2 separate regions of the Homo sapiens genome follow, and region 1 is linked to region 2. The links come from fine-mapping of genetic effects on gene expression. Tissue or cell type: whole blood. Region 2 holds a variant in brackets; the other region holds the start of a gene. All regions are shown on one strand. Distances are between the middles of the regions. Region 1 holds the start of CDC23 (cell division cycle 23). Region 2 overlaps NME5 (NME/NM23 family member 5).

Region 1 (5,368 bases), 92 kb before region 2:
CCTCAGGTGATCTGCCTGCCTCAGGCTCCCAAAGTGCTGGGATTACAGGCATTAGCCACTGTGCCCGGCCAATTTATGGTACATTCATATAATGGATTATCATGCAGTTATTAAGTATCACGATTTAGAAGAATATTAACTTGGGAAAATACTTAGAGTGAATTATCAAATGACAAATGTGGGCAGCACTGCAGTATGAAGCTATGTACACAGATGGATGGAGAAACACAGAAACCAGTGATTTCCTTTGGGTGGGAGTTAGTGTTCTACATATTTTTCTTTCTTAAAAAAATTAATTAATTAATTAATTATGTTTGAGACAGAGTCTCACTCTTGTCCAGGCTAGAGTACAGTGGCACGATCTTGGCTTACTGCAACCTCTACCTCCTGGGTTCAAGCGATTCTCCTGCCTCAGCCTTCGGAGTAGCTGGGACTACAGGTGCATAATACCACACCCAGCTAATTTTTGTAGTTTTAGTAGAGATGGGGTTTCACCACGTTTGTCAGGCTGGTCTCCATCTCCTGACCTCAGGTGATCCATCCATCTAGGCCTTGTTGGTATTACAGGCGTGAGCCACTGCGCTTGGCCCATATTTTTCTTTTCTTTTTTTTTTTTTGAGACCGAGTCTCGCTCTGTTGCCCAGGCTGGAGTGCAGTGGCGTGATCTTGGCTCACTGCAAGCTCCGCCTCCCGGCTTCACATGTTCTCCTGCCTCAGCCTCCCGGGTAGCTGGGACTACGGCACCCGCCACTAAGCCTGGCTTTTTTGTATTTTTAGTACAGACGGGGTTTCACTGTGTCAGCCAGGATGGTCTCGATCTCCTGACCTCGTGATCCACCCGCCTCTGCCTCCCAAAGTGCTGGGATTACACGCGTGAGCCACCACGCCCACCTCCCATATTTTTCTTTATAGTTAATGTATTCTTCAAGTTTTTGCCATTGACATTACTTCTTTTTTTTTTTTTGAGATAGGGTCTCTGCATCCAGGCTGGAGAGTGCAGTGGTGCAATCATAGCTCACTGCAACCTCAAACTCCTGGACTCAAGTGATCCTCCCACCTCAGCCTCCCGAGTAGCTGGGATGACAGGCATGCACCACCATGCCTGGATATATATTTTTTTAATTTTTAATTTTTATAGTAGTAGTGATAGGGAGGTCTTGGTATGTTGCCCAGGCTGGTCTTCAACAGCTGGGCTCAAATGATCTTCCCGCCTCAGCCTCCCAAAGCACTGGGAATATAGGCCCGCAAATTGATTTTTTTAAAGGGTAAAATGGGCTGGGCATGGTGGCTTATGCTTGTAATCCCAGAACTTTGGGAGGGCAAGGCGAGAGGATCATTTAAGCCCAGGAGTTTGAGACCAGCCTGGGCAACATAGGGAGATTCTGTCCCTACGAAAATTACAAAAAAAAAAAAAATTAGCTGGGTGTCGTGACACACACCTGTGGTCCCAGCTACTTGGGAGGCTGAGGCGGCAGGATCACTGGAGCCCAGGAGTTTGAGGATGCAGTGAGCCTTGATCGGGCCGCGGCCACTCCAGCCTGGATGACAGAACGAGACCTTCTTTCTTTTTTTTTTTTTTGAGACAGAGTCTCGTTCTGTCGCCCAGGCTGGAGTGCAGTGGCGCGATCTCTGCTCACTGCAAGCTCCGCCTCCCAGGTTCACGCCATTCTGTCTCAGCTTCCAGAGTAGCTGGGACTACAGGTGCCTGCCACCACGCCCGGCTAATTTTTTTTTTTTTTGTATTTTTAGTAGAGACAGGGGTTTCACCGTGTTAGCCAAGATGGTCTTGATCTCCTGACCTCGTGATCCGCCCGCCTTCGCCTCGCAAAGTGCTGGGATTACCGGCGTGAGCCACCGCGCCCGGCCGAGACCCTTTCTTAAAATAAATAAAATAATAAAATAACAATTTAAAAATAGATAACTTCTATATAACACCCAGTGAATGACAAAATGGTTTCAAAAAAAATTCCCGAGGGGTTGGTAAGATAGTATACTACTATGAAAGGATAAAAACCAAAAAACGCCGAAAATGTTCATGTAATGTTTAAGAACATTGGGCTTTGGAGTAAAATCTGGTTTATAGTCTAGACTCTCTCCTTGGAAGAGTGATAGAACTTCTCTGAGCTTCCGTTTTTTCTTTTTTTTCTTTTCTGGTTTTGTTTTTTTTTTTTTTTTTTTTTGACGGAGTCTCGCTCTGTCGCCCAGGCTGGAGTGCAATGGCACGATCTCGGCTCATTGCAACCTCCGCCTCCCAGGTTCAAGCGATTCTCCTGCCTCAGCCTGCCGAGTAGCTGGGACTACAGACACGTGCCACCACGCCCGGCTAATTTTTATGTATTTTTAGTAGAGACGGGGTTTCACCGTGTTGGCCAGGATGGTCTCGATCTCCTGACCTCGTGATCCGCCCGCCTCGGCCTCCCACAGTGTTGGATTACAGGCTTGAGCCACCGCGCCTGGCCGAGCTTCCGTTTTTCTTTCTATAAAATTGGGATGATACGAATATCATAGTGCTGTTTTTAGGATTAAACCAGATTATAGTTGTAAAAGAGCAGAACCTGTTGTAGGATAAACCCTCAATAAATGTGAAATGTTAACAATTATTGTTAAATAAATGTTACAGAACAATGCTCTCACCCCCACCTCCCCGGGCTACCCGGGGTAAGAAAGGGTAGACAAAGAGGAAAAATCCTCCACATGGGGCGATACATCCTCCTATTTTAAGGAAGAATCCAGAGGCTACCATGCATCTTTCCTAGCATATACATCACTTTGTCATTATCTGGTACAGAGTCGGCCCTGAAACTACACCCTTTCTATTTTTCATCCAATCACATCACCCGTGAAAGGCACTCTCCCTTCTCCACCCTTTCTTGCCCCTACTCCCACCCCTAGCTTCCCAGTTTACTTTTCCCAGTCACTCATTCCCCTCTTCCCCGCCCCGCCCAGAGGTCGTGGCTTCTCCCTCGCCCCGCCTATTTTCTAATTTTCCCGCCTCAGTAGCTCTTGGCCATTTGGGGATGTAGTTGTTTCTTTTCCCCCGCCTCTTCGTGACGTTTCAGAAATAAGACCTATGATTGGTTTTTCCGGAGCAAGAGCCGGCCAATGACAGGCAGATATTTTTGGTGCAGATGGGCAGCCAGTATTATCGCCGATGATTGGCTGGAGTGGCCCGAGTCGGGAAAATGGCTGCGAGTACCTCCATGGTCCCGGTGGCTGTGACGGCGGCAGTGGCGCCTGTCCTGTCCATAAACAGCGATTTCTCAGATTTGCGGGAAATTAAAAAGCAACTGCTGCTTATTGCGGGCCTTACCCGGGAGCGGGGCCTACTACACAGTAGCAAATGGTGAGATGTTGGAGTGGGAAGGGACGGGGCTTGGATCCTTGGCCTTGGGGGGCTTGTCGAGCTGATCTAGTTTGTGTGGGTGTTCCAGGTCGGCGGAGTTGGCTTTCTCTCTCCCTGCATTGCCTCTGGCCGAGCTGCAACCGCCTCCGCCTATTACAGAGGTAAGGACATGTTTACAGTGAGCGCTCCCCATCAACCCAGGGGTGTGCCTCAAGAGCCACTGAGTGCCCTGTCACTGGAGGAGAGCAAACTGCTTAGCAGAAATGTTTGTAGAGGGAATTCAGGCATTCAAAGAGCTGAGTGTTTTAAATGATTTTATCCATTTAGTTTTCTTGAGCTTTGAAAGACTTGGTGGTGCTCTTATTTAAAGCTGGGGAGAATTAGTAAACAATTACTGCTTATGATTTCAGCCTTTTAGGGCTTATAGCCAAACCTAGACATAAGAGTGCCTCATAATAGTAAATATTATTATAAGGAATTATTATAAGGATATCTCATAATAAATACCCAAAAGGATGAGAAGAATCAAAAGTTTTGGTCTGGCGCGGTGGCTCACGCCTGTAATCCCAACACTTTAGGAGGCCGAGGTGGGCGGATCACGAGGTTAGGAGTTCGAGACCAGCTTGGCCAACACGGTGAAACCCCGTCTCTAGTAAAAATACAAAATTAGCCGGACATGGTGGCGCGCGCCTGTAATCCCAGTTACTCGGGAGGCTGAGACAGGAGAATCGCTTAAACCCGGGAGGCGAAGGTTGCAGTGAGCTGAGATCGCGCCATTGCACTCCAGCCCGAGGGCAGAGCGGGACACTGTCTCAAAATAAATAATAAATAAATAAAGTTTTTACAATACCTACACTGTTGTCTGATCAGCATAGCAAATAATGGTTAAGTTTGGGTGCTGGATTGAGACGACTCTGGGTTCAAATGACCTTTGGCAACTTAACCTTCTGAGCCAGTTTCCTCATCTGTGCAGTGACGATAGTAATAGTATCTACTCAATGGGGATATTGAGAGAAGTCAATGAGATAATAATATAGACCGCTTAGAAGTGTGCCTGGTGCTTGCATCTATATTTCGGTCAAGTTCTTTATTAGCAGCACCAATGTGGGCAAATGATTTCTAAGTGACAGCCTTCTCATCTATAGATAATGTTAATAATTGCTGCATTTTCAAGAAGATTAAATAAAGCAATAAGGGTAAAGCATACGGTATACTCTTAGGTAAATTTTTTGAGTCAATGCAGTTTATATTTGTCTCATTAGCTTTTACTCTTGTGCCCACTTTCATAATGCCTAGGCCCATCGTTGGTCCTGAATAGGATAAATAATTGTTTTTGTTGTTTAAATTTTAGATTCAGGGGTTACTTGTGCAGATTTGCTACATGGATATATTGTGTGATTCTGAGGTTGGGCTTCAGTTGAACCCATCATCCAAATAGTGAACATAATACCTGATAGACAGTTTTATTTTATTTTACTTTTTTTTTTTTTTGAGACGGAGTCTTGCTCTTGTTGCCCAGGCTGGAGTGCAATGGCATGATGGCTCACTGCAACCTCTGCCTCCCGGGTTCAAGCAATTCTCCTGCCTCAACCTCCCGAGTAGCTCGGATTACAGGCACCCGTCACCACGCCTGGGTAACTTTTTGTATTTTTAGTAGGGACAGGGTTTCACCCTGTTTACCAGGCTGGTCTGGAACTCCTGACTTCAGGTGATCCACCTACCTTGGCCTCTCAAAGTGCTGGGACCTGGCCAGATAGTTTTCACCCTTTGCTTTCCTCCTTCCCCACTCTTGGAGTCCCTGGTGTCTGTTGTTCCCATCTTTAAGTCCGTGTGTACCCAGTGATCAGCTTCCACTTGTAAGTGAGAACATGCTGTATTTGGGTTTCTATTTCTGTGTTAATTCACTTTGGATAATGGCCTCTAGCTGCATCCATGTTACTGCAAAGGACATGATTTTGTTCTTTTTTATGGCTGTGTCGTATTCCATGGTGTATATGTACCACATTTTCTTTAGTGCACCATTGA
Region 2 (5,382 bases):
TTTTCTAAAGAAGACATACAAATAACCAACAAGTATATGAAAAGGTGCTTAAGGCCGGGTGTGGTGGCTCACGCCTGTAATCCCAGCTCTTTGGGAGGCCGAGGCTGGCAGATCACCTGAGGTCAGGAATTCAAGACCAACCTGGTCAACAAAGTGAAGCCCTGTCTCTACTAAAAAAAAAATACAAAAAATTAGCCAGGTGTGGTGGCACGTGCCTATAATCCCAGCTACTCGGGAGGCTGAGGCAGGATAACCACTTGAACCCAGGAGGTGGAGGTTGCAGTGAGCCAAGATCGCGCCATTGCACCCCAGCCTGGGCAACAAGAACAAGACTCCATCTCAAAAAAAAAAAAAAAAAAAAAAAAAAAAGTGCTCAAAATCACTAATCATCAGGGAAATACAGATCAAAACCACGGTGAGATATCACCTCACACGTTAGGATGGCTATTATCAAAAGAAAAAAAGGTAAATATTGGCAAGCATATAGGGAAATTGGAATGCTTGTACACATTTGGTGGAGATTAAAAATGGTGCTGCCACTATGGAAGACAGTATGGAAGTTCCTCAAGAAACTAAAAATAAAACTGTTACATGATCTAACAATCCCACTGCTGGATATATATATCTGAAAGAATTGAATCAGGATCTTGAAGAGATACCTGCACCAATGAACCACAATAATGTTCATTGTGGCATTATTCACAATAACCAAGATATGGAATCAACCTAAGTGTCCATCAGTGGGTTAATGGATAAAGAAAATGTGGTGTATATACACAATGTAATACTATTCAGCCTTAAAAAGGAAGAGATTCTGTCATTTTTGACAACATGGATGAACCTGGAGGACATTATATTAAGTGAAATAAGCCAGGCACAGAAAGACAGATATCACATGATCTCACTTATATGTGGAATCTAAAAAAACTTGAACTCGGAGAGTAGAATGGTGGCCACCAGGAGCTTGCAAGAGAGAGTAGGGGATGGAAATGTTGATCAAAGGATACTTATTCCTGTGATAGTAGGAATAAGTTCAACATGGTGACTATAGTTAATAATAATGTGTTGTTGAAAATTGCTAAGACAGTAGATTTTAAGTGTTCTCACCACAAAAAAAGATAAGTATTTGAGGTAATGCATATATTAATTAGCTTGATTTGTCTTTCCATAGTGTTTACATATTTCAAAACAACATGTACACAATAAATGTATACAATATTTCTTATCTATTAAAAAATTTGTTGTGCTCACTTCAGCACATATGCTAAAATTGGAACGATACAGAGAAGATTAGCTTGGCCCCTATGCAAGGATGACATGCTTTTAAAATAAAAAGAAATTTTAAGTACACTTATAAGTTAAAAAAAATTTGGGGGACCAGGGGTGGTGGCTCATGCCTGTAATCCCAGCACTTTGGGAGCCTGACATGGGCAGATCACTTGAGGTCAGGAGTTCGAGACCAGACTAGCCAACATAGTGAAACCCCATCTCTGCTAAAAATAAAAAAAAATTAGCCTGGCATAGTGGCATGCATCTGTAATCCCAGCTACTCAGGAGGCTGAGGCAGGAGAATTGCTTGAACCCAGGAGGCAGAGGTTGCAGTGAACCGAGATCGCACCACTGCACTCCAGCCTGGGCAACAGAGCAAGACCATGTCTCAAAAAAAAAAAAAAATTAAAAAAATTTTTGTTTAATGATTAGTACCTGATAAATTGGCATAATGAACTTTATATAATATATGAATAAAACATTTGCCCATATTGAGAAAAAATTGTATACATTAATTGTGTGCAATTTTGTGTACATGAGTAATACTTCAATAAAGCTGTAAAAAGGAAAATTCCATTCACAATGACATTAAAAATAATATAATATTTAGGCACAATTTTTTTTTTTTTTTTTTTTTTTTTTTTAGAGACAGAGTTTCGCTCTTGTCACCCAGGCTGGAGTGCAGTGGCCCGATCTCAACTCACTGCAACCTCTGCCTCCTGGGTTCAAGCGATTCTCCTGCTTCAGCCTCCCGAGTAGCTGGGATTACAGGCGCCCACCACCACGCCCAGCTAATTTTTTGTATTTTTAGTAGAGACAGGGTTTCGCCACGTTGGGCAGGCTGGTCTCAAACTCCTGACTTCAGGTGATCCACCCGCCTTGGCCTCCCAAAGTGCTGGGATTACAGGTGTGAGCCACCACGCCCGGCCATATTTAAGCATAAATTTAATGAAAGTGCAATTCTTGTACACTGAAAAACAAAGAACATTGCTGAGATAAATTTTAAAATAAATAATAGATATTCCATATTAATGGATTGGAAGACTCAATATTGTTAAGATGGCAATTCTTTCTAAATTAATTAACAGTTTTGGGTTGGGTGCAGTGGCTCATTCCTGTAATCTCAACACTTTGGGAGGCTGAGGCAGAAGGATTGCTTCAGTCTAGGAGTAGGAGACCAGCCTGGGCAACAAAGTGAGACCTCATCTCTACAAGAAAAAAAAAATTTAAAGAAAATTTTAATGTAATCCTTTTAAAAGTCCATGCATACTTTTACGTAGACATTGACAAGCTGAGTTTAAAATTTAGCAAAATTGCAAATAATTCAATTTTAGAAAAGAAGAACAAAGTTGGAAGACTTCCACTATCTGATTTTGAAACTTACTGCAAAGCCACAATTATAAGACGGTATGACAGTGATATAAAGATACACATATAGATTATTGGAACAGAATTGAGGATCTAGAAGTAAACTTTTACACTTATGGTCAATTCACTTTCAACAAAGGTGCCTAGACAATTCAGTGAGAAAAGGATGGTCTTGCCAATACAGTCCCCAACTTACCATGGTTCAAGTTACAGTTTTTTGACTTTACTATGGTGCTTTCAGCTGTGTACATTAATGGCGAGTATCCATACAACCATTCTATTTTGGTTTCCTTTTTTTTTGAGACAGGGTGTCTCTCTGTCACCCAGGCTGAAGTGCAGTGGTGCCCACTACAGCCTGACCTCCTGGGCTCAAGCATTCTCCCACCTTAGCCTCCTGAGTAGCTGAGACTAGAGGCATAGACCACCATGCCTGGCTACTTTTTGAATTTTTTTGTTGTAGAAAGGCAGTCTCG[C/T]CATATTGCCCAGGCTGGTATTGAACTCCTGGCCTCAAGAGATCCTCCCCCAAAAATGATATATATATATATCTTTTTTTTTTAAGAGACAGAGTCTTGCTTTGTTGCCCAGATGGTCTCAAACTCATGGCTTCAGGTAATCCTACTGCCTCAGCCTCTCAAGGAGCTAGGACTACAAGTGTGAACCACTGTGCCCAGCTCATAATATATGTATATTATATAGAAAATGTTATTTATATAAAATTTGCTTTGTGTTAGATGATTTTGCCCAACTGTAGGCTAATGTAAGTGTTCTGAGCACATTTAAAGTAGGCTATGCTATGCTATGATGTTCAATAGGCTAGGTGTATTAAATGTGTTTTTGACTTACTGATACTTTCAACTTATGATGGGTTTATTGGGATGTAACCCATGTAAATTGAGGAAAGTCTGTATATGGTGCTAGGACAGCATGATAGTCACATAAAAACAAAAAGAACTTAGACCCTTGTTTCATAGCATACACAAAAATTAACTCAAAATGGATCACAGACTTCAATGTAAAAACATCTAAAAGAAAACAAGAAAATCTTTGTAACTGGAGTTGGACAAAGACTTCTTAAAATGACATCAAAAGCAAGATCCATAAAAGAAAATATTGATAAATTGGACTAAATCAAATTAAAAGCTTTTGTGCTTCAAAGGACATCATTAAGAATGTGAAAAGAGGCTGGGCGCGGTGGCTCATGCCTGTAATCCCAGCACTTTGGGAGGCCGAGGCAGGCGGCTCACAAGGTCAGGATATCAAGACCATCCTGGCTAACATGGTGAAACCCCGTCTCTACTAAAAAATACAAAAAAATTAGCCGGACTAATTAGTGGCGGGCACCTGTAGTCCCAGCTACTCAGAAGGCTGAGGCAGGAGAATGGCGTGAACCCAGGAGGCGGAGCTTGCAGTGAGCCAAGATCGCGGCACTGCACTCCAGCCTGGCGACAGAGAAAGACTCTGTCTCAAAAAAAAAAAAAAAAAAAAAAGAGCTGGGAGCAGTGGTTTGCACCTGTAAATCCAGCTATTCAGGAGGCTGAGGTGGGAGGATTGCTTGAGGCCAGGAGTTTGAGACCAGCGTGAGTGACACCCTGTCTCTAAACACTTAAAGAAAAAAAAAGCTGGGTGTGGTGGCACACACTTGCAGGCCCAGCTACTTGGAAGGCTGAAGCCAGAGGATGCTTCAGCCCAGGAGTTCGAGGCTGCAGTGAGCTGTGCTCACACCACCACACTCCAGACTGGGCAACGGAGCAAGACCCTGTGTCAAAAAAAAAAATAGAAGTTAAATTTTTAAAAATATGAAAAGATAGGTAGGCAACAGACTGGGAAAAAATATCACCAAATAATATAAAGAACTTGTAACTAGAATATATAAAGAACTCCTATGTCTAAATAATAAGAGAAACATCCCAACTGAAAACTGAGGCTGGTTCTACTCAGGAGGCTGAGGCAGGAGAATTGCTTCAACCTGGGAGACGGGGTTGCAGTGAACTGAGATTGTGCTGCTGCACTCCAGCCTGGGTGACAAGAGTGAAACTCTGTCTCAAAAAAAAAAAAATAAAGAAAAGAAAAGAAAAAGAAAACAGGCTGGTTGCAGTGGCTCATGCCTGTAATCTCAGCACTTTGGCAGGCTGAGGCAGGCAGATTATTTGACGTTAGGAGTTCAAGACCAGCCTGGCCAACATGGTGAAACCCCATCTCTACTAAAAATACAGAAATTAGGGCCGAGCATGGTGGCTCATGCCCGCAATCCTAGCACTTTGGGAGGCCGAGACAGGAGGATTACCTTAGATCAGGAGTTTGAGACCAGCCTGGCCGACATGGTGAAACCCTGCCTCTACTCAACGTACAAAAATTAGCCAGGCATGGTGGCACACTCCTGTCTACTTAGGAGGCTGAGGCAGGAGAATCACTTGAACTCAGGAGTTGGAGGTTGCAGTGAGCTGAGATTGTGCCACTGCATTCCAGCCTGGGCAACAAAGCGAGACTCTGTCTCAAAAAATAAAAATAAATAAAAATACAAAAATTAGCAGGGTGTGGTGATGCGGACCTGTAGTCCCAGCTACTCGGAAGGCTGAGGTGGGAGAATCACATGAACCCAGGAGGAGGTTGCAGTGATCTGAGATTGCATCATTGCACTCCAGCCCAGGCAACAGAGTAAGACTCCATCTCAAAAAAACATATAAAAAAATAGAGAAAAGTTCTTTAAAAAGAACCTTTTTAATGATTGTATAGTATTTAATCATT

What was found. PIP is the estimated chance that this variant, and not a neighbour inherited with it, causes the effect.
Region 1: CDC23 starts here. The variant in region 2 is the best candidate, but not a certain one, in a credible set for the expression of CDC23 in whole blood (INTERVAL, PIP 0.54).

The regions. Positions count from the first base shown.
Region 1 is chr5:138,211,127-138,216,494 of GRCh38, reverse strand. It overlaps CDC23 (cell division cycle 23), which reads left to right and starts at 3,172. Exons shown (of 16, transcript NM_004661.4): 1 at 3,172-3,343; 2 at 3,432-3,504. The coding sequence starts at 3,183. RefSeq lists an enhancer at 2,861-3,155.
Region 2 is chr5:138,118,973-138,124,354 of GRCh38, reverse strand. All of the region lies in intron 4 of NME5 (NME/NM23 family member 5), which reads left to right. It also overlaps the pseudogene RNU6-888P. Among named protein-coding and RNA genes, the nearest start is that of NME5, 18 kb to the left of the region's middle. The variant C/T (reference allele first, on the strand shown) is at 3,111.